Homo sapiens: one gene and its partners. The protein of the gene in region 1 binds, or shares a complex with, the protein of each later gene. Links are inferred from orthologs where the notes say so. Each region holds a gene or a part of one and is shown in the gene's direction. Other genes may lie near its edges.

What was found. Proteins that work in one complex are often made in the same cells at the same time.
Region 2: the proteins of RHO (region 1) and SAG are in contact, whole or in part, in a crystal structure (PDB 4PXF), measured with the Bos taurus proteins. The link is inferred for Homo sapiens from one-to-one orthologs. Residues at the interface, in NP_001014890.1 of Bos taurus: Arg135, Val138, Val139, Lys141, Leu226, Glu249, Val250, Met253, Met309, Asn310, Lys311, Gln312; in XP_010802144.1 of Bos taurus: Asp71, Ile72, Met75, Gly76, Leu77.
Region 3: the proteins of RHO (region 1) and GNAT3 are in contact, whole or in part, in a crystal structure (PDB 4A4M), measured with the Bos taurus proteins. The link is inferred for Homo sapiens from one-to-one orthologs. Residues at the interface, in NP_001014890.1 of Bos taurus: Leu72, Arg135, Val138, Val139, Lys141, Thr229, Val230, Ala233, Thr242, Thr243, Lys245, Ala246, Glu249, Val250, Asn310, Lys311, Gln312; in NP_001103452.1 of Bos taurus: Ile344, Asn347, Leu348, Lys349, Asp350, Cys351, Gly352, Leu353, Phe354.

The regions. Positions count from the first base shown.
Region 1 is NC_000003.12:129,531,272-129,537,049, forward strand, and holds the end of RHO (rhodopsin), read left to right. Parts: intron 1-979; coding exon 980-1,145; intron 1,146-1,261; coding exon 1,262-1,501; intron 1,502-2,336; coding exon 2,337-2,447; 3' UTR 2,448-4,073; downstream 4,074-5,778. UniProt on the Homo sapiens protein: Photoreceptor required for image-forming vision at low light intensity. Required for photoreceptor cell viability after birth.
Region 2 is NC_000002.12:233,303,080-233,311,785, forward strand, and holds the start of SAG (S-arrestin), read left to right. Parts: upstream 1-4,736; 5' UTR 4,737-4,943; intron 4,944-6,082; 5' UTR 6,083-6,110; coding exon 6,111-6,185; intron 6,186-8,706. UniProt on the Homo sapiens protein: Binds to photoactivated, phosphorylated RHO and terminates RHO signaling via G-proteins by competing with G-proteins for the same binding site on RHO. May play a role in preventing light-dependent degeneration of retinal photoreceptor cells.
Region 3 is NC_000007.14:80,508,095-80,517,070, reverse strand, and holds the start of GNAT3 (guanine nucleotide-binding protein G(t) subunit alpha-3), read left to right. Parts: upstream 1-5,006; 5' UTR 5,007-5,144; coding exon 5,145-5,262; intron 5,263-8,976. UniProt on the Homo sapiens protein: Guanine nucleotide-binding protein (G protein) alpha subunit playing a prominent role in bitter and sweet taste transduction as well as in umami (monosodium glutamate, monopotassium glutamate, and inosine monophosphate) taste transduction.

The DNA.
Region 1 (5,778 bases):
CCCAACCCTTCACCTTGGCTGTGCCCCTAATCCTCAACTAAGCTAGGCGCAAATTCCAATCCTCTTTGGTCTAGTACCCCGGGGGCAGCCCCCTCTAACCTTGGGCCTCAGCAGCAGGGGAGGCCACACCTTCCTAGTGCAGGTGGCCATATTGTGGCCCCTTGGAACTGGGTCCCACTCAGCCTCTAGGCGATTGTCTCCTAATGGGGCTGAGATGAGACACAGTGGGGACAGTGGTTTGGACAATAGGACTGGTGACTCTGGTCCCCAGAGGCCTCATGTCCCTCTGTCTCCAGAAAATTCCCACTCTCACTTCCCTTTCCTCCTCAGTCTTGCTAGGGTCCATTTCTTACCCCTTGCTGAATTTGAGCCCACCCCCTGGACTTTTTCCCCATCTTCTCCAATCTGGCCTAGTTCTATCCTCTGGAAGCAGAGCCGCTGGACGCTCTGGGTTTCCTGAGGCCCGTCCACTGTCACCAATATCAGGAACCATTGCCACGTCCTAATGACGTGCGCTGGAAGCCTCTAGTTTCCAGAAGCTGCACAAAGATCCCTTAGATACTCTGTGTGTCCATCTTTGGCCTGGAAAATACTCTCACCCTGGGGCTAGGAAGACCTCGGTTTGTACAAACTTCCTCAAATGCAGAGCCTGAGGGCTCTCCCCACCTCCTCACCAACCCTCTGCGTGGCATAGCCCTAGCCTCAGCGGGCAGTGGATGCTGGGGCTGGGCATGCAGGGAGAGGCTGGGTGGTGTCATCTGGTAACGCAGCCACCAAACAATGAAGCGACACTGATTCCACAAGGTGCATCTGCATCCCCATCTGATCCATTCCATCCTGTCACCCAGCCATGCAGACGTTTATGATCCCCTTTTCCAGGGAGGGAATGTGAAGCCCCAGAAAGGGCCAGCGCTCGGCAGCCACCTTGGCTGTTCCCAAGTCCCTCACAGGCAGGGTCTCCCTACCTGCCTGTCCTCAGGTACATCCCCGAGGGCCTGCAGTGCTCGTGTGGAATCGACTACTACACGCTCAAGCCGGAGGTCAACAACGAGTCTTTTGTCATCTACATGTTCGTGGTCCACTTCACCATCCCCATGATTATCATCTTTTTCTGCTATGGGCAGCTCGTCTTCACCGTCAAGGAGGTACGGGCCGGGGGGTGGGCGGCCTCACGGCTCTGAGGGTCCAGCCCCCAGCATGCATCTGCGGCTCCTGCTCCCTGGAGGAGCCATGGTCTGGACCCGGGTCCCGTGTCCTGCAGGCCGCTGCCCAGCAGCAGGAGTCAGCCACCACACAGAAGGCAGAGAAGGAGGTCACCCGCATGGTCATCATCATGGTCATCGCTTTCCTGATCTGCTGGGTGCCCTACGCCAGCGTGGCATTCTACATCTTCACCCACCAGGGCTCCAACTTCGGTCCCATCTTCATGACCATCCCAGCGTTCTTTGCCAAGAGCGCCGCCATCTACAACCCTGTCATCTATATCATGATGAACAAGCAGGTGCCTACTGCGGGTGGGAGGGCCCCAGTGCCCCAGGCCACAGGCGCTGCCTGCCAAGGACAAGCTACTTCCCAGGGCAGGGGAGGGGGCTCCATCAGGGTTACTGGCAGCAGTCTTGGGTCAGCAGTCCCAATGGGGAGTGTGTGAGAAATGCAGATTCCTGGCCCCACTCAGAACTGCTGAATCTCAGGGTGGGCCCAGGAACCTGCATTTCCAGCAAGCCCTCCACAGGTGGCTCAGATGCTCACTCAGGTGGGAGAAGCTCCAGTCAGCTAGTTCTGGAAGCCCAATGTCAAAGTCAGAAGGACCCAAGTCGGGAATGGGATGGGCCAGTCTCCATAAAGCTGAATAAGGAGCTAAAAAGTCTTATTCTGAGGGGTAAAGGGGTAAAGGGTTCCTCGGAGAGGTACCTCCGAGGGGTAAACAGTTGGGTAAACAGTCTCTGAAGTCAGCTCTGCCATTTTCTAGCTGTATGGCCCTGGGCAAGTCAATTTCCTTCTCTGTGCTTTGGTTTCCTCATCCATAGAAAGGTAGAAAGGGCAAAACACCAAACTCTTGGATTACAAGAGATAATTTACAGAACACCCTTGGCACACAGAGGGCACCATGAAATGTCACGGGTGACACAGCCCCCTTGTGCTCAGTCCCTGGCATCTCTAGGGGTGAGGAGCGTCTGCCTAGCAGGTTCCCTCCAGGAAGCTGGATTTGAGTGGATGGGGCGCTGGAATCGTGAGGGGCAGAAGCAGGCAAAGGGTCGGGGCGAACCTCACTAACGTGCCAGTTCCAAGCACACTGTGGGCAGCCCTGGCCCTGACTCAAGCCTCTTGCCTTCCAGTTCCGGAACTGCATGCTCACCACCATCTGCTGCGGCAAGAACCCACTGGGTGACGATGAGGCCTCTGCTACCGTGTCCAAGACGGAGACGAGCCAGGTGGCCCCGGCCTAAGACCTGCCTAGGACTCTGTGGCCGACTATAGGCGTCTCCCATCCCCTACACCTTCCCCCAGCCACAGCCATCCCACCAGGAGCAGCGCCTGTGCAGAATGAACGAAGTCACATAGGCTCCTTAATTTTTTTTTTTTTTTTAAGAAATAATTAATGAGGCTCCTCACTCACCTGGGACAGCCTGAGAAGGGACATCCACCAAGACCTACTGATCTGGAGTCCCACGTTCCCCAAGGCCAGCGGGATGTGTGCCCCTCCTCCTCCCAACTCATCTTTCAGGAACACGAGGATTCTTGCTTTCTGGAAAAGTGTCCCAGCTTAGGGATAAGTGTCTAGCACAGAATGGGGCACACAGTAGGTGCTTAATAAATGCTGGATGGATGCAGGAAGGAATGGAGGAATGAATGGGAAGGGAGAACATATCTATCCTCTCAGACCCTCGCAGCAGCAGCAACTCATACTTGGCTAATGATATGGAGCAGTTGTTTTTCCCTCCCTGGGCCTCACTTTCTTCTCCTATAAAATGGAAATCCCAGATCCCTGGTCCTGCCGACACGCAGCTACTGAGAAGACCAAAAGAGGTGTGTGTGTGTCTATGTGTGTGTTTCAGCACTTTGTAAATAGCAAGAAGCTGTACAGATTCTAGTTAATGTTGTGAATAACATCAATTAATGTAACTAGTTAATTACTATGATTATCACCTCCTGATAGTGAACATTTTGAGATTGGGCATTCAGATGATGGGGTTTCACCCAACCTTGGGGCAGGTTTTTAAAAATTAGCTAGGCATCAAGGCCAGACCAGGGCTGGGGGTTGGGCTGTAGGCAGGGACAGTCACAGGAATGCAGAATGCAGTCATCAGACCTGAAAAAACAACACTGGGGGAGGGGGACGGTGAAGGCCAAGTTCCCAATGAGGGTGAGATTGGGCCTGGGGTCTCACCCCTAGTGTGGGGCCCCAGGTCCCGTGCCTCCCCTTCCCAATGTGGCCTATGGAGAGACAGGCCTTTCTCTCAGCCTCTGGAAGCCACCTGCTCTTTTGCTCTAGCACCTGGGTCCCAGCATCTAGAGCATGGAGCCTCTAGAAGCCATGCTCACCCGCCCACATTTAATTAACAGCTGAGTCCCTGATGTCATCCTTATCTCGAAGAGCTTAGAAACAAAGAGTGGGAAATTCCACTGGGCCTACCTTCCTTGGGGATGTTCATGGGCCCCAGTTTCCAGTTTCCCTTGCCAGACAAGCCCATCTTCAGCAGTTGCTAGTCCATTCTCCATTCTGGAGAATCTGCTCCAAAAAGCTGGCCACATCTCTGAGGTGTCAGAATTAAGCTGCCTCAGTAACTGCTCCCCCTTCTCCATATAAGCAAAGCCAGAAGCTCTAGCTTTACCCAGCTCTGCCTGGAGACTAAGGCAAATTGGGCCATTAAAAGCTCAGCTCCTATGTTGGTATTAACGGTGGTGGGTTTTGTTGCTTTCACACTCTATCCACAGGATAGATTGAAACTGCCAGCTTCCACCTGATCCCTGACCCTGGGATGGCTGGATTGAGCAATGAGCAGAGCCAAGCAGCACAGAGTCCCCTGGGGCTAGAGGTGGAGGAGGCAGTCCTGGGAATGGGAAAAACCCCAACTTTGGGGTCATAGAGGCACAGGTAACCCATAAAACTGCAAACAAGCTTTGTCACCTCTCAGAGCTTCCTTATCTGCAAAAAAGAATCTTAAAACTGACCTTGGCTGGGCACAGTGGCTCACACCTCTAATCCCAGCACTTTGGGAGGCCAAGGTGGGCAGATCACGAGGTCAGGAGTTTGAGACCAGCCTGACCAACACGGTGAAACCCTGTCTCTACTAAAAATACAAAAATCAGCTGGGCATGGTGGCGCGTGCCTGTAATCCCAGCTATTCAGTGGGCTGAGGCAGGAGAATCGCTTGAACCTGGGAGGTGGAGGTTGCAGTGAGCCGAGATTGCGCCACTGCACTCCAGCCTGAGCAACAGAGGGACAGTCTGTCTCCAAACAAAACAAAACAAACAAACAAACAAACAAACAAACAAAAAACAACAACAAAAAAACCACTTGATCCTAAGGGGATTAGATGCGACTGTGGACTTTAAGTGGCCAGCCTACTGCCTGGCATGCAGCAGATGAGACTATGGCAATACTGGGCTTCAGCTCAGAGCTGGCCTTACTAGAGACCCTGTCCCAAAGGGGAAAAGGATGGAGCTAAAGCTCCCGAGAGTCACCCCCTCCTCCGAGGTGAGAAAGGAGGGCAGGAGCATGAGATAGCCGATCCTCGGTGCCTTGGTGAGGCTGGGGCAAATCATGCTGGGATCTCTATCATTGTCCCTCTTTACTGTGACTCACTAGATAATATCAGTCAGGATACTTTTGGTCACAAGTGATAGGAAATCCAACTCATTTGGGCTGAAGCAAAAGGGACACATTGTTGGCTCACATGAACAAAAAGCCCGGGGCTTCAGGCACAGGGTATCACCATGACTGAGATGGGGATTAATTCTGTGATTGGCCAAGTCTAGGTCACCTGATCATACGTAACTCATTTATGCCTGAGGTTGCAATTTTTTGGATTTTTGCAATCAGACCTTGGCGATGACCTTGAGCAGTAGGATATAAATAACTCCCACATGCTTAGCGTTCCAATAATGGAATACTAGGCATACGCAGGTCTAACTGCATCACCATGGCTGGAATGGGGATTCATCCTCTGATTGGTCAGACCTAGGTCACATGCTCACCCTGCAGCCCAAGCAGGCTGAATGGGGAGAGGTAGGTTTCACAAAGGAAAGCCCAGGTGCTGTTACCTGAAGTAGGAGGGCAGGAGGCAGGGTGAGCAGAGCCAACATCAACCCAGAGGGAATGGAATCTAAGTTGGTGTTTTCTGGGCACGTGGCTGGACCAGGCCTCCCTCCCTCATCATCTCAGGGACATGAGGGAGAAGATTCCTATGGGTGGTCCCGAAGGTCTCACCCTTTGTTTTGGATGCTGTGTTGGGCCAGGGTGGCAGTGGGTGGGACAGTGGCATCTTAGCTGCCCTGACTTGCAGGCAGCCCATTCCAGCTCCCCGCCCCAACCCCAACCCAGCCCACTTTTTCTGAGAAATGGTACATTTGCCCCAGCCTCATGTCCAGAGGAAAATTTTACTCTAACACCAGAACATTCTCTGGTTTGTCCTGATAGACAAGAAAGCCTCCACCTCCTTAATTTACAAATGACTTGACAGCTGCTTCGTGGGCACTTGCATACATAAAGAGAAGGAGCTGCTGCCTTAAGTTGCAGCAAGTTTGGCCCCACCTCATCTCCAGGCAGCCAGCAGA
Region 2 (8,706 bases), on another chromosome or scaffold:
GCTGGGATTACAGGCGTGAGCCACCATGCCTGGCTGAAGAAGGATATTTTAATACCAAAAAATTAAAAAGCTCATAATCTCAAAAGGACAGTCCTTTATATTGAATAAGTTTGGCTCCCAGAAAAACTACAAGAGTGTCCTTATTTTTCTCATTTCTCCACCAAGAAGAGAAAAAATCATCACAGACCAAGAGTTGGGAATAACATTTCCAAAAAGAGTGAGATCTGTCATCCAGTCCACCCAAATTTCCCCACCTGCACGGCATTGGCAGAGCAGTGACTAAGATCTGCAGATCTGTGCCTTCCAGCAGCCGGGAACGATGAAGCAGCAGGAGAATGGGGGAATCTGGAAGCACTCACAGCTGCAAACTGGGCCTGGGTCCTGCAGCCTCAGCTCAGGGCAGCCCTCTGATGGGGACACTGAAAGAAGCACCCTAGTCATTTTTTCCCCTTTGTTTTTTTTTTTTTGAGTTGGAGTCTGGTTCTGTTGCCTAGGCTGGAGTGCAGTGGCACAATCTTGGCTCACTTCAACCTCCATCTCCTGGGTTCAAGTGATTCTTCTGCCTCAACCTTCCAAGTAGCTGGGATTACACACATCACCATGCCCAGCTTTTTTTTTTTTTTTTTTTTGTATTTTTAGTAGAGACAGGGTTTCACCATGTTGGCCTGGCCTCAAGCTCCTGACCTTCAGGTGATCCGCCCACCTCGGCCTCCCAGAGTGCTGGGATTACAGGTGTAAGCCACCGTGCCCGGCCACAGCAATTTTTTTTTTGCCCACGCTGGAATACAGTGACATGCTCACGGTTCACTATAACCTCAACATCCCAGGCCCAAACAATCCTCTGGCATAAGCCAAGTAGCTGGGACCACAGGCACACACCACCAGGCCTGGCTAATTTTGTTTACTTTTTATAGAGATAGGGTCTCACTATGTTGCCCAGGCTGTTCTCAAACTCCTGTGCTCAAGTGATCCACCTGCCTCTGCCTCTCAGAGTGCTCAGATTACAGGTGTGTGCCACTGTGCCTGGCCCTATTTATTGTTTTTTGTTTGTTTGTTTTTTTGTTGTTTGTTTTTGAGACAAGGACTCGCTCTGTTGCCCAGGCTGGAATACAGTGGTGTGATCATGGCTCACTCCAGCCTCAACCTCCCAGGCTCAAGCCGTCCTCCAGCCTCAGCCTTCCAGAGTGCTGGGATTACAGGCGTGAGCCACCACACCTCACTTATATAACACAGTTTTGTATTTTAACCTTTCTATTATAGGAGCAGTAAATGGTCATAGGAGAAAATGTGAAAAATTATAGACAAGAAAATTGAAACAAAGCCTACCATTTCATTACAAGGTAATGAGAGACCTTTAACTACCAATGTTAGCTTAAGGTGTATTCTTGCAAAGTATGCATAGGTATAGCATGCATATGAACCTGCATGTATGTGTGTAAATATGCTTGTGTGTATATGCATGTGTGTGTAAATGTACATATATGTATGTATACACAAATACATAGTCTCTGTGTGTTTGCAAAACGTGGACATGCTAAGCACACCATTCTGCAGTCTTGTTGGTTCTGTCACAATCTCTCACCTTTCTACTCCAGGCATTTTACCATAGTCAGATTTTCCCAATGAACCCAAAATGTCCTACACATCCTTTTTGACCAGTTGTGTATTCAGTCTGGGGCTGCACATGACATCTGGGTCTCGAGTGTCTTAGCGTCTTTTAATCTAGTAAACCCCATGTCTTTTTTCTTTTTTTTTTTTTTTTGAGACAGAGTCTCGCTCTGTCACCCAGGCTGGAGTGCAGTGGCACGATCTTGACTCACTGCAACCTCCCCTCCCGGGTTCAAGCAGTTCTTCTGCCTCAGCCTCCCGAGTAGCTGGAACTACAGGCGCCCACCACCACGCCTGGCTAATTTTTGTATTTTTAGTAGAGACGGAGTTTCACTATGTTGGCCAGGCTGGTCTCGAACTCCTGACCTTGTGATCCGTCCGCTTCGGCCTCCCAAAGTGCTGGGATTACAGGCGTGAGCCACTGCACCTGGCCTACCCATTTCTATGGCATTGTTTGTTGGATTTGTCTGGCTGCTCACTTGCGTCACGTAGCTCGTTCCTTGTATTTCCGATAAACTAGAAATGATGTCTGAAGGCTCATGGATTCAAGTTAACCCAAGGGGACACATCCCATGTGGCTGACACCACCAGCAATGCTAAGATTGACCATGGCATCTGCCGTGCACCTTGTGATGACACCATGATCCGTGTGGCATCACTTCACTCCTACAGTCATTTTCCCAGCAACTCTTCACCTAATGGTTTTAGCACCAATGAATAATCTTTGTGTTTTAAAATAGGGGGTTTGCAGTTCAGGTATGGTGAGGCCAACCATAGAGTATGCTAAGGATAGGGTGACATTGAAGTAAAGACTCAAAGCCATTGAAGGAGTGAGCCATGTGGCTGGCTGTGGGAAGACTGTTCCAGGAGAGGAAATAGCAAGTGGAAAGGCCTAGACGGAGGTTTAAAGAAAAGCAGGCCAGTGGTGGTGGCTCACGTCTGTAACCCCAACACTTTAGAAGGTTGAGGTGAGAGGATCAGTTGAGGTTGGGAGTTCGAGACCAGCCTGAGCAACATAGCAAGACCCCATCTCTACAAAAAGGTTAAAGAATTAGCTGGGTGTGGTGGCATGTGCCTGTAGTCCTAGCTACTCGGGAGGCTTAAGTGGGAGGAGCGCTTGAGCCCAGGAGTTCAAAGCTGCAGTGAGCTATGATTGCACCACTGCACTCCAGCCTGGGTGACAGAGCGAGACCCTGTCTCTAAAAGAAAAGAAAACAGGCTCAGTACTCTGGAGTGAAGTGGGCAAGGGAGAGGGTGGTGAGAAATAAAGTCAGAGGTAAAGGGGGGCCAGAGCATGCCGGACCTGGCAAGCATTGTCCAGACTTAAATGGGAAGCCATTGGAATGTTTGGGTGGATGCTGATACCCCAAACGTCAGAACAGGCTTTCTGCATATACTTGTTTCATTCCCAAGTCAGTCCCCCATGTAAGTGTGTTAGTGGTCGCAGAGTCCCCTCCATCCATTCCCTGAGTGTTCTTGGGAGCAGGCATTGTTCTGGGCACTGTGAAGACAAAAGTGAAGGAAACAAAATGGCCTAGGCCCTGCCCTCATGGAGCCTGGACTCCAGTGAGGGAAGAGAGACTGTAGAATAATTCCCAAGCAAGAGTGAAATGTGGCCAGGCACGGTAGCTCATGCCTATAATCCCAGCACTTCAGGAGGCCAGGAGTTTGACACCAACCTGGCCAACATGACGAAACCCCATCTCTATTAAAAATACAAAAATTAGCTGGGCATGCTGGTGCACAACTGTAATCCCAGCTACTCGGGAGGCTGAGACAGGAGAATCGCTTGCACCCAGGAGGTGGAGGCTGCAGTGAGCCGAGATCGCGCCACTGCACTCCAGCCCAGGCAACAGAGTGAGACTCTATCTCGAAAGCAAAAAAAAAAAAGAGTGAAATGCAAGCGTGCCTCCAATCTGGTCCTGGAGGTTGGGGATAGCTCCCCTGAGGAAGTGACTCCTGGTCAAAAATCTGAAAGGCCAAGAAGAGTCAACAAAGTGGAGAGAGGAGAGGCTTGTTCCAGGCAGAAATAATAGTGGGAAGGAGGAAGCGTGGCAGACGGCGTGGAAGGAAAGGCAGGCAGAGGTTCCAGAGGCTGCAAGCTTTTTGCCTGCATTCTAAGAGCAATGGGTGATTGTAAGCGAGGGATGACAGGGCTCAGAAGGTCTCTCTGCCTCTGTGTGGAAAAGGGCTTGGAGGGTAGAAATAAATGTGGTCGGCTGGGTGCGGTGACTCATTCCTGGAATCCCAGCACTTTGGGAGGCCGAGGCAGGTGGATCACCTGAGGTCAGGAGTTCGAGACCAGCCTGGCCAACATAGTAAAACCCTGTCTCTACTAAAAATACAAAATTAGCTCAGTGTGGTGGTAGGCGCCTGTAGTCCCAGCTACTCTGGAGGCTGAGGCAAGAGAATCACTTGAACCTGGGAGGCAGAAGTTTCAGCAAGCTGAGACTGCACCACTGCACTTCAGCCTGGGAGGCAGAAGTTTCAGCAAGCTGAGACTGCACCACTGCACTTCAGCCTGGGAGACAGAGCAAGACTCCATCTCAAAACAAAAAACAAAACAAAAAAAAGAAAAGAAATAGATGTAGTCAGACAGTGGGGAATCACTCCGGTCCTGAGAAGCAAAGGCGGTGCTGGGGATGGGAGGATGCAGACAGGTTCCAGAGACACTGAGGGGATCAACAGGACTCCTGAAGCCATCAATCAGTAGGACCGGGTGGAGGAGAGGGACAGATCCAGCTTGGCTTGCATAACACCAGGTTCATCTTGAGGTTGACATTTCTCCTTGACCTTTTTGTTTAGTCCCCACCCGCAAGGTCGCATTAGCTGCCTGCTGAGTTTAATCAAATCTCTTCCTGTCCTGGCAATGCCCGGGAATGAAGAGATAATCAGTCTATTTCCAGAATCCAAAGAGGTTTAGAAGAAAAAGTAGCTTTCATTTAGCTGTTGGCCCTCCCACCAACCTTCCCCAAGTCAGCTGGGTGACTCATACATCTGTGAGACCCTCCGTATGGAGACCGGGGCGGGGGGTGTTGCTTAATGCTTAGAACTGCTGAAACTACCAGTTCACTGTCTCAGCACTAATCCAACTCTGCTCCTTAAGTGGGATTTGGCTTTTAGACATTGAGACCTGGATGCTGGGCATCCTCGCTAGATCCCCTACAAATTCCCCACATACGTAGGCCAGGAGCCTCAGCGGTGCCCCTTCAGGCTCATCTGGCAAGACGGTACCAGCTTGCTCAGAACAGGGGCTGGCTATTCATCATCTCAGAGCATAGAGACCCTCTCCTTGCCACCCGGCCCTTCCCACCTGGTTGGTGACAAATCACAAGGTATGTGACCACCACAGGCCAAAACCTTATCAGAAACCTGGGGCAGGTGTGGGGAAGAGCAAGGATGGGCGTTTTCCTGCAGACAGTATGTCCCGCCTTCACCTTTTCTGTGTGGTTTCCATAAGACTTGGTTGCTATTTAAGGAGACTTGGAGTGAGCGGGTGCAATGGCTCATGCCTATAGTCCCAGTGACTCAGGAGGCTGAGGCTGGAGGATCACTTGAAGCCAGGAATTCGAGACCAACTTGAGCAATACAGTCAGACCCAGTCTCTACAAAAAAACAAAAATAAAAATAAATTAGCTAGGCATGGTGTCACACACCTGTAGTCCTGGCTACTCAGCTGGCTGAGGCAGGAGGATCACGAGCCCAGGAGTTCGAGGCTGCGGTGAGCTATGATTGTGGCACTGCCCTCCAGCCTGGGCAACAGAACGAGCTCCTATATCTTAAAAAAAAAAAAAACCTCAGAGTATGCTTAATTCTAGACCGCTAAGATGGCCTCTTAATTGTAAAACAGAGTGGCTATCTCTTAGTAGGAATTGCCAAATAGAACTTTTGGGATTTTAATATATTCTTTTTTTTTAAAAAAAGTGATAGGATCTTGCTATGTTGCCCAGGCCAGTCTCCAACTCCTGGTTTCAAATGATCCTCTCGCTTCAGCCTCCCAGAATGTTGAGATGACAGGTGTGAGCCACAGTGCCCGGCCATTAATATCTTCTTGAAAACAGTCTTTGCGAAGTGGTTATGTTGTGGTTTTCAGGAACTTTTCTGATTTATTCGCCATTAGACACAGTCACGATAGAACTTTAAATTCAACCTGGCTAAGTGTGATAACACCAAAGGTTAGTCAGAAAGTAAAACCTCATTGGAATCTAGCTAGACTCCCTGGCAAGGTGTACTGAGAAATGTTTGAAGCTTACCAAGAAAAATAAAATATTGAAAACACCCCAAAGCATGCTGCAGTAAAATACAAACTAAGCAAAGACTCACCGATGAAACTCGGATGTTGAAGCCGGTACAAGGGCATGGTGAGGACGCACAGGATCTCGTGAGTAGGTTTCATAACTAGGATGTTCTTGACTTGATATTTAGGATTGTCTTACCTTTCTCCAACCCTCTAACACCTGACCAACACCCCAAGGTGGTAGAAGTTGCCAGGGACAGATAACATGGCAGCCAGCGGGAAGACCAGCAAGTCCGAACCGAACCATGTTATCTTCAAGAAGATCTCCCGGGACAAATCGGTGAGTGGTGCACAAGTGAGTGATTTGATAGAAATTATTGTTTAAAAAAAATGGAGCTTTTTCAAGTACAGTGTAGTCATGATCAACATCAAAACTCTTTGAGGGCCAGGGCGCGGTGGCTCATGCCTGTAATCCCAGCACTTTGGGAGGCGGAGGCGGGATAACTTGAGGCCAGGAGTTCGAGACCAGCCTGGCCAACATGGCAAAACCCATCTCTACTAAAAATACAAAAATTAGCTGGGTATGGTGGCAGGCACCTGTAATCCCAGACTTGGGAGGCTGAGGCACAAGAATCACTTGAACCCAGGAGGTACAGGTTGCAGTGAGCCCAGATGGTGCCACTGCACTCTAGCCTGGGTAGCAGAGGGAGACTCTGTCTCAAATAAAAAACAAACAAACACTGTGAGGGCCAGGGAAGCTTTGTGTCTATTTTTGTCTCTGTCTAAGATGGATGATCACTGAGCTATAAATGAGTGAATGAACTGCAGAAATAGAGCTTCTCTTCAGTCTCATCAAGACTTTAGTCCTGTGTCCCTCAGTTTTCTCCGAATCCCTCAATCCCCACACTGTCACCCCCACCTCTGCATCTTTTCCTAGCCAGCCTTGAACCCTTGACTTACTATTTAAACACAGTTTTGTCAGTACCTGTGATGCCCTTGGCCTTTTGTCTATCTATTGTGTCACCTGCCTGGGTAAAACCCAGACAGTGATCAATGTGACTCCTTCTTCTCCGTGCACCTACCCCACCCGGGGGGTCTCAAGCCTCAGCTGGGCCCGCAGGGCCATTGGATAAGGGAAAATGCCCCAGTCTGCCCCCTTTCCACCACTCTCCAGGGGCACGTTAGATGCTCCAGGTGTGCCCATGAACTTCCTCGCATGGGAGAGGGTCCACCGTCCAGCCTCTGTGGATAGCTCCACTCGAAAGCTTCTTGTGGGCCAAAAATCTAGCTCAGCAACATCTAGTGCAAGCCACATATGTAATTTTAAATTTTCTAGTAGCCACATTTAAAAAGTAAGAAGAAACAGGTGAAATTCATTTTGATGTTATATTTTATTTCAGCCCACTATATCCAAAAAACTATCAGTTCAACTTGTAAATAATAATATAAGAATTATTGAAATCTGATGTGTATTTTATGTTTACAGAACATGTCAATTTGGAATGGCCATATTTCAGGTGTCCGGGAGCCACCTTAAGCAGTGGCTACCCTACTGGACAGGGTAGCTCGCCATCATTCTGGCTTTTTTTTTTTTTTTTTTTTTGAGACAGAGTCTCACTCTGTCACCGAGGCTGGAGTGCAGTGGCGTGATCTCAGCTCACTGCAACCTCTGCCTCCCAGGTTCAAGCAATTCTGCCTCGGCCTCCCTAGTAGCTGGGACTACAGGCATGTGCCACCGCGCCCAGCTAATTTTTGTATTTTTAGTAGAGACAGGGTTTCACCATGTTGGCCAAGCTGGTCTCGAACTCCTGACCTCAGGTGATCCGCCCATCTTGGCCTCCCCAAGTGCTGAGATTACAGGTGTGAGCCACCGCACCTGGCCCATTGTGGCTGACTTCTGAACCCGGTATGGGGTCCAAAGAACCTCCCCATCCTTACCGTGCCACCCAGGAGATCCGGCTTTGCCTGTGTGCTTTCTGCCTTCTCCTCTCCTAGTTAAGGAACTCGGTCATTTTAATCAAGTACTCTGATTCTTTCGTTCTCCAAGCCCTTTCCCAAGTTGTATCTTTCCAGTCCATTTTATCTCAACTTCTGGCTGAAGAGGAAACCACTCGTGTTGGTTTCCCACGTTGTTTTCCCCTTGCTCCTAGATTTTCCACCAAGAAATGTAGATGGTTTTTGTAGATAAGTCCTCACAGGTGGGAAAAGAGAATTCAATTCCTGTCTCATGTATTCAGATCATTTTGCCAGCGATGTCTGTGTGGCCCCAGGCATGGTGTGCCAGGGCTCTGAGCCCATTTCTCTGTGATTCTCCCGACGCTGCCCTCTTCTTTGACCTTCATCCTCCAGCAGGTGGCTAAATGACTGCCCCTGCTCCTGGCGTCTCACCCACACTTGACAACATCCAGAAGGAAGAGGCTGTGGTTTCCTGGGGTCTCTTGTAAGGGTCAGGAAATCTTTCCCAAGACTCTTCTCTCATATCTCATTGGCCAAAACTGGGTCACATGTCCACTGTAAACCAATCCCAAGCCAGAAGAATTAGATGATCGTAGTGAATCAGGCCAATCAAGAATCGTACCCTGGAGCCGGCCTCCTCTGAGCATACCGCCTGGTGGAAGATGGTGGTCCCTGAACAATAGTTGGCGGCTTTTATCCAGGAAGAAGGGGTGTGTGGCTGTTGGATGGGCCCCCGAAGGCTGGCTACAGTCTCACATCACCCACTTCTCTACCTGCCCCCATCCTGCCCCTGTCCTTCCTGTTGCAGTGGAAGGGGTAGTTTGCTCCCATCTGAGGTTCACCACCTCTTACACCCTGGGTTTCATGGTTGGCCACCTTCTCAGGGGCCTCAGTCATTGGTCTGG
Region 3 (8,976 bases), on another chromosome or scaffold:
CTAGCTAAGATCATTGATGAAGATGGCTACACTAAATGCAGATTTTCAATGTCATTAAGTAGTCATATTACAAGAAGCTGCTACTTAGGACTTTCAAAGCTAGAGAGGGAAGTTAATGTCCAGCTTCAGAGCTTTGAAGGACAGGCTGACACTCTTTTTAAGGGCTAATGCAGCTGGTGACTTTAAGTTGAAGCCAATGCTCATTTAACATTCCAAAAATCCTAGGGTCCTTAAAACTGATACTGCTATGCCTGTGCTCTATAAAAGGAAAAACAAAGCCTGGATGACAGCACATTTGTTTGTAGCCTGGTTTACTAAATATGTTAAGCCCTCTATTGAGACTTACTGCTCAAAATAAAAGATTCCTTTTGAAATATTGAAATTGACAATGCACATGGTAATTCAGAGCTCTGATGATATACAAAAAGATTACTATTTATATACTACTATATAAATACTCCTAAGAAGTTATATAACAAGGACAACAAAAAGTAGTAACTATTTTCTTGTTAGGCTTTATGTAAAAATCAAGTTTGTGTTGTTTTCCAAGTTATCGATATTCCTATACTTTAATTTTAAAAAGTATTGAAACCATGTTCAATGGCCAATGAAACTGCACCTCTTGATGTTTAATATATGGTGTTTATCTGTAAACATTTATTTTGTTAATATTTACACAGTGATTTATAAAAGATTATAAACTGCTGAAGGCTCAGAGGATTGTTAGCATTTTTAGCAATTTTTTTTTGTTAAGGTATGCACATTGCTTTTTTAGACATAGTGCTATTGCACACTTAATAGACTACAGTATAGTATAAACATAATTTTCATATGGCCTGGGAAACTAAAACATTTGTGTGATCACTTTACCGTGATATTCACTTTATTGCGGTGGTCTGGAACAGAATCTGCAGTATCCTTGAGGTCTGCCTGTGATTGGGAAATATATTTGGATAGTTAGATAGTGCTAACTATATTATTGAGTACATGGTATGCTCATGTACTCAGTAATAACATATGTTACAGGAGTAACACAGGAGGAAGTAGTAAATATAGAATCATTTGTTTTTTCCAGCCAGAAAGGAGTAATAATTAAACTTGCCTTTGAGGGAATTTAGCCTGGCACAATCAGACCGATTGGACTGGGATAGAGTGGAGCCTAGAGTAAGGAAACCTAAGTGAGAAGCTGTTGCAACAATCAGGGCTGAAATTGCTGAGAAATATGATTATGGGAGTTAGTAATAGAAATGTGTTAAAGAGCAATATTTTAAAAATCTTAAAAGAGACAGAATTTGAGATAGGAAAAGGCACCCTGGGAAACAGTTGTGACTCTTATCCAATAATCATATATAAAATTCTATCCTAATTCATAAAAAAAATGTAGAAAGGTAGAAATCAACTCCAATGAAAAAAATACATATTTGTGTTACCTATTAGTACATAAGAGCTGTTTAATGTTGGCAATGTAAACTTGTTGCACCATCTGAATGTACTAACTTGAAAGAGTAAGGTTTGCTTTATTCCCTCAAGATCAAAAGATTGCTCTTAGGAAGCCCCAAAAGGCATGAACTCTCTGGAAGAAATACCAGGCTTGGAGCTCCCTGAAGTGTACATTTGAGCACCATTAGCAAAGGAGAGATGGTTTGCCTCAAGTTTCATGGGAATATACAAGGATAAAGGTCATTGCTAAGGCAGCCACAACTCAAACCACCTAGGGATAGAATGCCTGAAATCAAAACCTCCTATAAGATTGGAAACAAAATAAAGAGTAACACTGATCACAGCCTGTTTTGGCAATTTCCAGCATTAGCTGAGCCATTGAGACATCCCTAAGACGTAGCAACCTCAAGTCATTGAAGTCAGCCACAGGTAACATCCCCACGAGCAATTCAGCTTGATGACCGTAGAAACGCAGGTGATACTGGCAAAAGAGACATCTCCAAAAACATAGATTGAAATCTGGTTATTAAAAGCAGGTAGCAAATAATTGCATGTCACCTCTAGCTATATGTTTAATCATCGATGTAAAATAGTGATTACTCACACTTTTTAAAGGCTAATGTTGCTTTCTGAAGATTCCACAGAGATCCTAACCAAAAATAGCAACAGAAAATTTATTTTCATCCTCCATACTTGTGGTATTTCAGTGACTATTGGAGGTTAAGTGTGGTTCAATCTCTGTATTTGTCCTCAAATCAATTTTACTGTGATGCAATAAAGAAACAATATTCTTAAACGTCATTCTCAATGATTATTCTAAAAGACCACTGCACTCCAACACAATCTCTTGCTTTTTGTGTGTGTGCATGGGCTTGTGCATTCACGTTTTTGTGCGTGTCTGTGTGTGCAAGTGTGTGTACACAGGGCAACCATCTCTCCTAGCTGGAACATACATTAAGTTGGTGCAAAAGTAATTGCGGTTTTTGTAATTACTTTTAAAATGACCAAAAGCACAATTACTTTTGCACTGACCTTACATACATGTGTGTATGTCTGTGTGTGTGTATGTATGCATGTATAAAACTCTAACATGATGTTGGTGTTTTGGCTAGCTTCACATTTCTTGTTTTCAAGAACAAACAAAATTTACGGTCACGGCATCTAATTTAGCTTTTTTTTTTTCTGTTGTCATCTTCTATCAGTTTTCCCTTACTGTAGAACAAACAGGGCTTAACAATTGAAAAGGAGGATGCTGCTATTACTTTTAAGACTGAGGAAACAAATGTGTGACTATTGGACTAATAGCTACAATCGTATATACTGACACTATTTAAAACTAAAATTTGGCTTTTTGTTGATTTTTTTGAGTCACTCCAAAATTTTAGAAAAGAAATCCTAAGTATACTGTCACTAAGCACAGGAAAGAAAGGGCCTCCAGCCTCTATCAGTTTGTCAGCAAGAAGTAATTTTGAACATTTACTATAACTAGTACTGTGCCATATACCATGTAGACCATTCAAGCTAGTAAGATATTATCACCACGCTAGCGGAGTTTACTATTTTGATTTTCCTCATTTCTTTACGTACAGAAAGCTATATGACTAAGTGAAGCAATATGAACTAATAGCTGTATTAAGCCCAGCTCATTAATGATGCTGTGTCCGAGGCACCCAGGGGAGAAGGCTGAGAAATGAGTCTTGCTTTCCTCTCTAGCTCTCCCGCTCTCCCTCTCTGTAACACAGACATACCTAGAGTTTTATGTCAAGAATATTTTAATCACTGATGAAAAAATCACCTGATAATCTCATCAAGTTGATGAACATTACTGGTTACAACAGAAAAGTGGAAGTTCATCGTTTTATACAGTGCAGAAAATGTATACTCCTACTCCTGAAAGAGTTGGTCAGTTTTAGTTAGTAATCCCATTAGGAAGCCTTAGTAAAACATGTATGTTCCTAAAAGCAGGGTACGTCTCTGCCAAAAAGCTATGAGGTATATTTATGCTTGTATGCAAATTATATGATGTAGCCTGTCAGTTCGTTTCTGCCATAGAACATGCAAGAATTCTGTTTATTCAGGGTGCTATTATATTCAATTTCTATAAAAAAGCACTAGGCAAAAAGAGATTAAATGTGCTAAGTGTTGCTTTCAGAGTGGACTTTGTGTTCACAGGTGAGCATTAGGCCGTGCAAATCTCCTTCCTTTGGGACAGGCCCTTTGCATTGTAAAAGCAATACCACATGATTTGCACAAATCCTTGCCTATCCACCACTGCACATCTTTATACTATCATAATATGGCTTTGGAAGAACGGAACCCAGGAAGTTTTGACTATGTTTATGTATCTTCAGCCTAATATTTTTGATGTGGAAAAAGTAAACAAAGCAGGACTATGTATTTAATCTGGCAGCCTATTTTCTTGTTGCATGAATATGTAAAAACTCACCTGTTCAAACTTTGCACATGATCCCACAAGAAGAGCACCACTGACAGGTTGGTGGATTGACTGTATTCTGGCATTTTCTGGTTAAGCACATTCACAAATCCCAAAATGCACACTGAAAGATGTGCCACAGGCAACCGACTCTGTTCATAAGGAAAATATTGATTGACTATCTACCAAGCACTTTATGCTTCATATAAATAAAAAATTGTGCAACATAATCTCTGCCCTCAATCCTGAAGATTTTCAAGAAGTACATGGTATCTGTTGGGGTAGTTGAAAGCTATGGAACTTATTTAGGTGTAATTACTGTTTTTAGTTTGTAGGAAAAACCAAATTACCTGCTGTTTCAAAGAACATTGGTTTTTATTCCCTTGGTACCAAATCAGTAAGAGTCCCTCCAGCACAGCAGCTGTTGCTTAATGGCCCTAAAGAGTTAATGCGCTGCCTAAATTGAACATAGTTCAGTGTCTACACCAAGTGGGCCCTCAATTAGTGTTGATGGATTGACTTTCTCACAGGCGGCAAAAGCTCAATTTATAGAGATGGATCCTATGACACTAAAATCAATAATTTAAGAAAACTGTGTTGAATTTTATATTTGTAGCAATACAATATGTACAAATATAAAAACTATATGTATTTGTATCCATTGTTAAAAAAAAGATTTTTTTTGTTCCCTGACAGATGCTAATAGATGCTCAATAGCTTTAAGTAATAATCTAAGCATAGGTAGACCATAAAAGTTGGATAACTTACATGTATATATTCTGATTGTGATATAGGAGTGATTATAAAGAAATTGAAGGGCCAAATATCTGAAGATAAGATGTAAGCATCGCTGATTAGTAATAATAACTTTTAATCACAGTAATAAAAATTGCCCAGTAGTGAGAAACATTCTATTTGAATTGCTTATTGTAGATCATCTCTAGTGTATAGATTTTGACAACTTTCTACATTATTTTATACTATAAAGCAGATAAGCCTGTTTTCGAAGATGTGCCCGAAGCAGTCATTTAATTTGAAAGCATAATGAACTTCCTCTCTAGCCTCCATCAGGGGGGTATGGTTTTACCACCTGATCAGGTGACAGATGAGAAAGCATCTCCTTAGTCAAAGCAGAATCTTAGAGCATTAGGGAATGGACTGCTAGGTACTTCAGCAGAGCATTACTCTTGCCTCCTATGTCCAAACCACAGCTGTGCTCAACATTTGAAAAATCTGAACATATAAACTGACAAGTATCTACCACCACAAGATGGGAAGTGGAATTAGTTCAGAGAGCAAGGAGTCAGCCAAAAGATCAAAAGAACTGGAGAAAAAGCTTCAGGAGGATGCTGAGCGAGATGCAAGAACCGTAAAGCTGCTACTATTAGGTAATTTCTTTTCCCTTTTGCTTTCAAAAACCTGACTTTTTTTTCAATTGTGATATATTTACTTTTCTCAGACTTTAATTTCGAGTGTATTATCATATGGGAAATTTATTATAAAAATGTGTTTGGAAACTTAAGGAAAATTTATTTGTACTCTATCAATATTTAATAATTTTTCTGTTTAGTATTTTATTACCTTTTTGTTAAGCAAGGAGGCAAATATTTATCAGCTAATTTCTCTGTCAGTAATATGGTTTACTATTATTAAAATAAAAATCAGATACATTTATTATTTTATTGCACCCTAATCATTTTCTGAATGTCAGCTTTTTAATACTGAAAGAAATCCTTTAGCTACAAGTTATAAAGAGTTATATTATTTTGTTTAAACAGAAATAGGTTGAATTGTTTGACGTTGAAGTTAATGTTTGTTATTTACTTGTATAGTTAAAAATCAATTAGTCAAGTTAGAGAACAATGATAAGGTACTTTAAATTATATTAACAATATTACTTAGGCTCCTGAATACTGCCTGCAATATTGCCTGTACACTTGAAAAATACTCTACCTAAATCCTTTTAGAGCATTTATATATTCATTCAGGTCAGGATTTATGTCTCTTTTATTTTTTTTTCCTTCTTTCAAAACTCAGCACTGTTTTACCTTGACTATAAATTCAATAAATGTTCAATTAATTGAAAGAATAAAAATAATCCATATGCAGATTTTTTCTATAAAGCATAAAACATTTTACATGCAGTTTCACTGAAACAGAAATATGTTTTTGAAATAAAAATGATGACCTATATAAAGAATACAAAGCAAGCACTTACTTCTGATTCAATTATGAGTTGTACTTTCTCCCTGATTTTGGTTATACACAAAAGGACTTCATCTTATTTCAGAATCGTGCATATTTCACATAACAAATTTCCTCATATTTTAAGTATTTAAACACTTAAATACTTAATATTAAATGAATTAAATACTTAAACTTATTTAAGTATTCCTTCGTTGTGTCTAATTTGCTCCCAGTGGCAAGAGTGTTTCAGAAGCCAACTGTGGGATTCCCAGCACTTGCTCCTTAAAGGAAAGGAAACATCCTTGCCCCTTACACACAGGTTCTGTGCCTGCACACAGGCCCACAGCACTTGTCAGTAACTACCCAGAGGTTGGTGACTTTGAAAGATGTGGGTTAAGTACTAATGACACCAGGAAATATATGCTTCCTAACACACCATAGAATTCTGTTAGTTTCTGAGCAAGAGTGAAAGTAATATGGACACAGGAAAAGCAAATGAAAGGTAAAAGGGAAAGACAAGCATTCTTACAAATTCATTTTTATATTCCTTTTGTACTAAGATCAATGACATAAGAATGGTGATAAAACGTATTAAAAATTTCCGTGTTTAAATAACATTTCAATAGATGTGTGTTTTCAATATACCAATTATCTATTTTTTTACATATTCTCTTATTTTGTAAAAATACAAATGGAAAGCCAAAACAATGAAAGAGCTAATACCACAATTTAGACTAAGACAAAAACTATTAAACATGCCAAAAGCAATGACTCTTGAGATAAGCATATCAGAGCTGCCAGTCAACTAGAGATTCAGTTGTGACGGAAAAGAACAAGGTAGAAAGGTGGTTTCTAGGGGCTAGGGTGGTTGGGGGGAACAAGGGGAAAGGGAGTTGTTGGTCAAAGGACACAAAATTACAGTTAAATAGGAAGAATAAATTTCAAGAGATCTACTGTTCAGCACGGTGACTATAGTTAATGATGATCTATTGTATTCTTGAAAAATGTAAAGAGAGTAGGTGTTATGTGCACTTACCACAAAAATGATAACTGTGAAGTAATACATTTGTTAATTAGCTAGATTTAACCATTCTACACTGTATTTTTACTTCAACATATCGTGTTGGACACAACACAAGCATGGAATGTTATTTGTCAATTTAAAAAAATAAATTAAAAATGTTCAAAAAGAGTATATATAGATGAATGAAAACACATCACTGAAAATTGGGTCAAAAAGGTTCAATGTAATGATGGACAAAAGAAAGATTTTTTTTAAATTTGGAACTGAAAATCAATGGACTACTGATACATACAGGGTTCCAGAATTAGTAAATTTTACCACTCCACAGAGCCATTGACTGGGACCCAACTTATTGTATGCAATGCTATCAAATGAAAAATAAGTCAGATGAATTATTTTTAGACTTAAGTGTTGGTTAGATCAAGAAGAAAGAGCAATATTTGTACCAGAAGTATAAAAGAATCATTAGTGGGACTATTACATGTTTTACTTTCCCAAGGTGTTTACAATTTTATACATACAATTTCATCATTAGTAAGTAAAATACTTGGATTTATTTGGTTCCAACACTATGTGCACTAAACTCCTTTGTCACATTTTATTTATACAAAATAAATGAAATTCTCTTAAGTTGTTCCTATTTCAATTATATTACAAACATCTGGCTAAGTTTCCCTTTTGGAGTCCATCTGAATTCTACATATGATGATACAATTATCAAATTCATAACAGTCTTATAACAGCTCTACTTCATTCTCATGTTTGGATTGAATTCAAATTCTCGAAACTGTAATTTTTATATTCAATTTGACCTCATTAAGACATTATAAAAGTGCTTAGTTGAACTAAACCAAAACTTTCCACTCTCCTACCCTCAAATCTCCTCACCAATGAAATCTATTTAATTTTTCCCATCATTGAAACGATGTTCTCATTCATCAGTGTCGTCTGAATGACACTTTTAAGTTTATCAGTGAGTACATGTCACATGGAACTAACCAGTTTAACCTTAGTAGTGATCAGCTCCTGAGTCAATACCTACATTTACAAAAATAAGAAATCTAAAAAACACTTTTGACAGATTTTTTTTCAGTATGTTGATCTTCATCTAATGAATTTCTAGAAGCTTAAACTCATAACACCAACTTTCCACATTTAACATGTACTGCAAAGCGGATGTAACCATTTGGTATTATCGAACACAAGATTTCACTGAATCTGAAGAGCGGTCAAAGTGCGACTTTACAATTAAAGGATCATCTTGCAGACAGATGCCTTTTTTTATTACACCTTTCAGACCTTCAGTAAAATTACAGAACAGATGCCAAATCTGTGTTTTATTTTAGCAAAAAGTAGGCTTTTAGGAAACACTGGAGATGACTCATACATTGCTGAGCACATTTGATAACTGCAATCAAGAAAATAATGCCACATGCTTTAAAAAATTTACTTGCAAAGATATTCCAGAAAGAGCACATTTTAATAAGAAAAACAAATTCTAACGGATAAAATATTCTCATTTGTATCTAAGTACGTTTTAAAGTTTTATAAACGTTTCATTCAATGGTACTTTTATTCAAAATAATACCTATTATTTAATTGTAAACTCAATATGGATCATGTTTCCATTTTTCCTTTCTCCTCTCTTTATGCTTATTACATCAAATTTCAGTTTGAGTTTATTTTGCTGCATCAGTTTCGTTTGTTTTTTTTGCAAATTTCCATCACATGGGCTGCTTAGATTTGAAGCCCCATGGAAAGCATAGGAAAAAAATTAGCTTTCTTTTTTCTTCATATTCAAAACACCCTCTGCCACATTTATATATATAATTAACATTTATTCTACAATTTTTCACTTTTAGCTAGTGATTTCCAGCATTATCATGGGAAG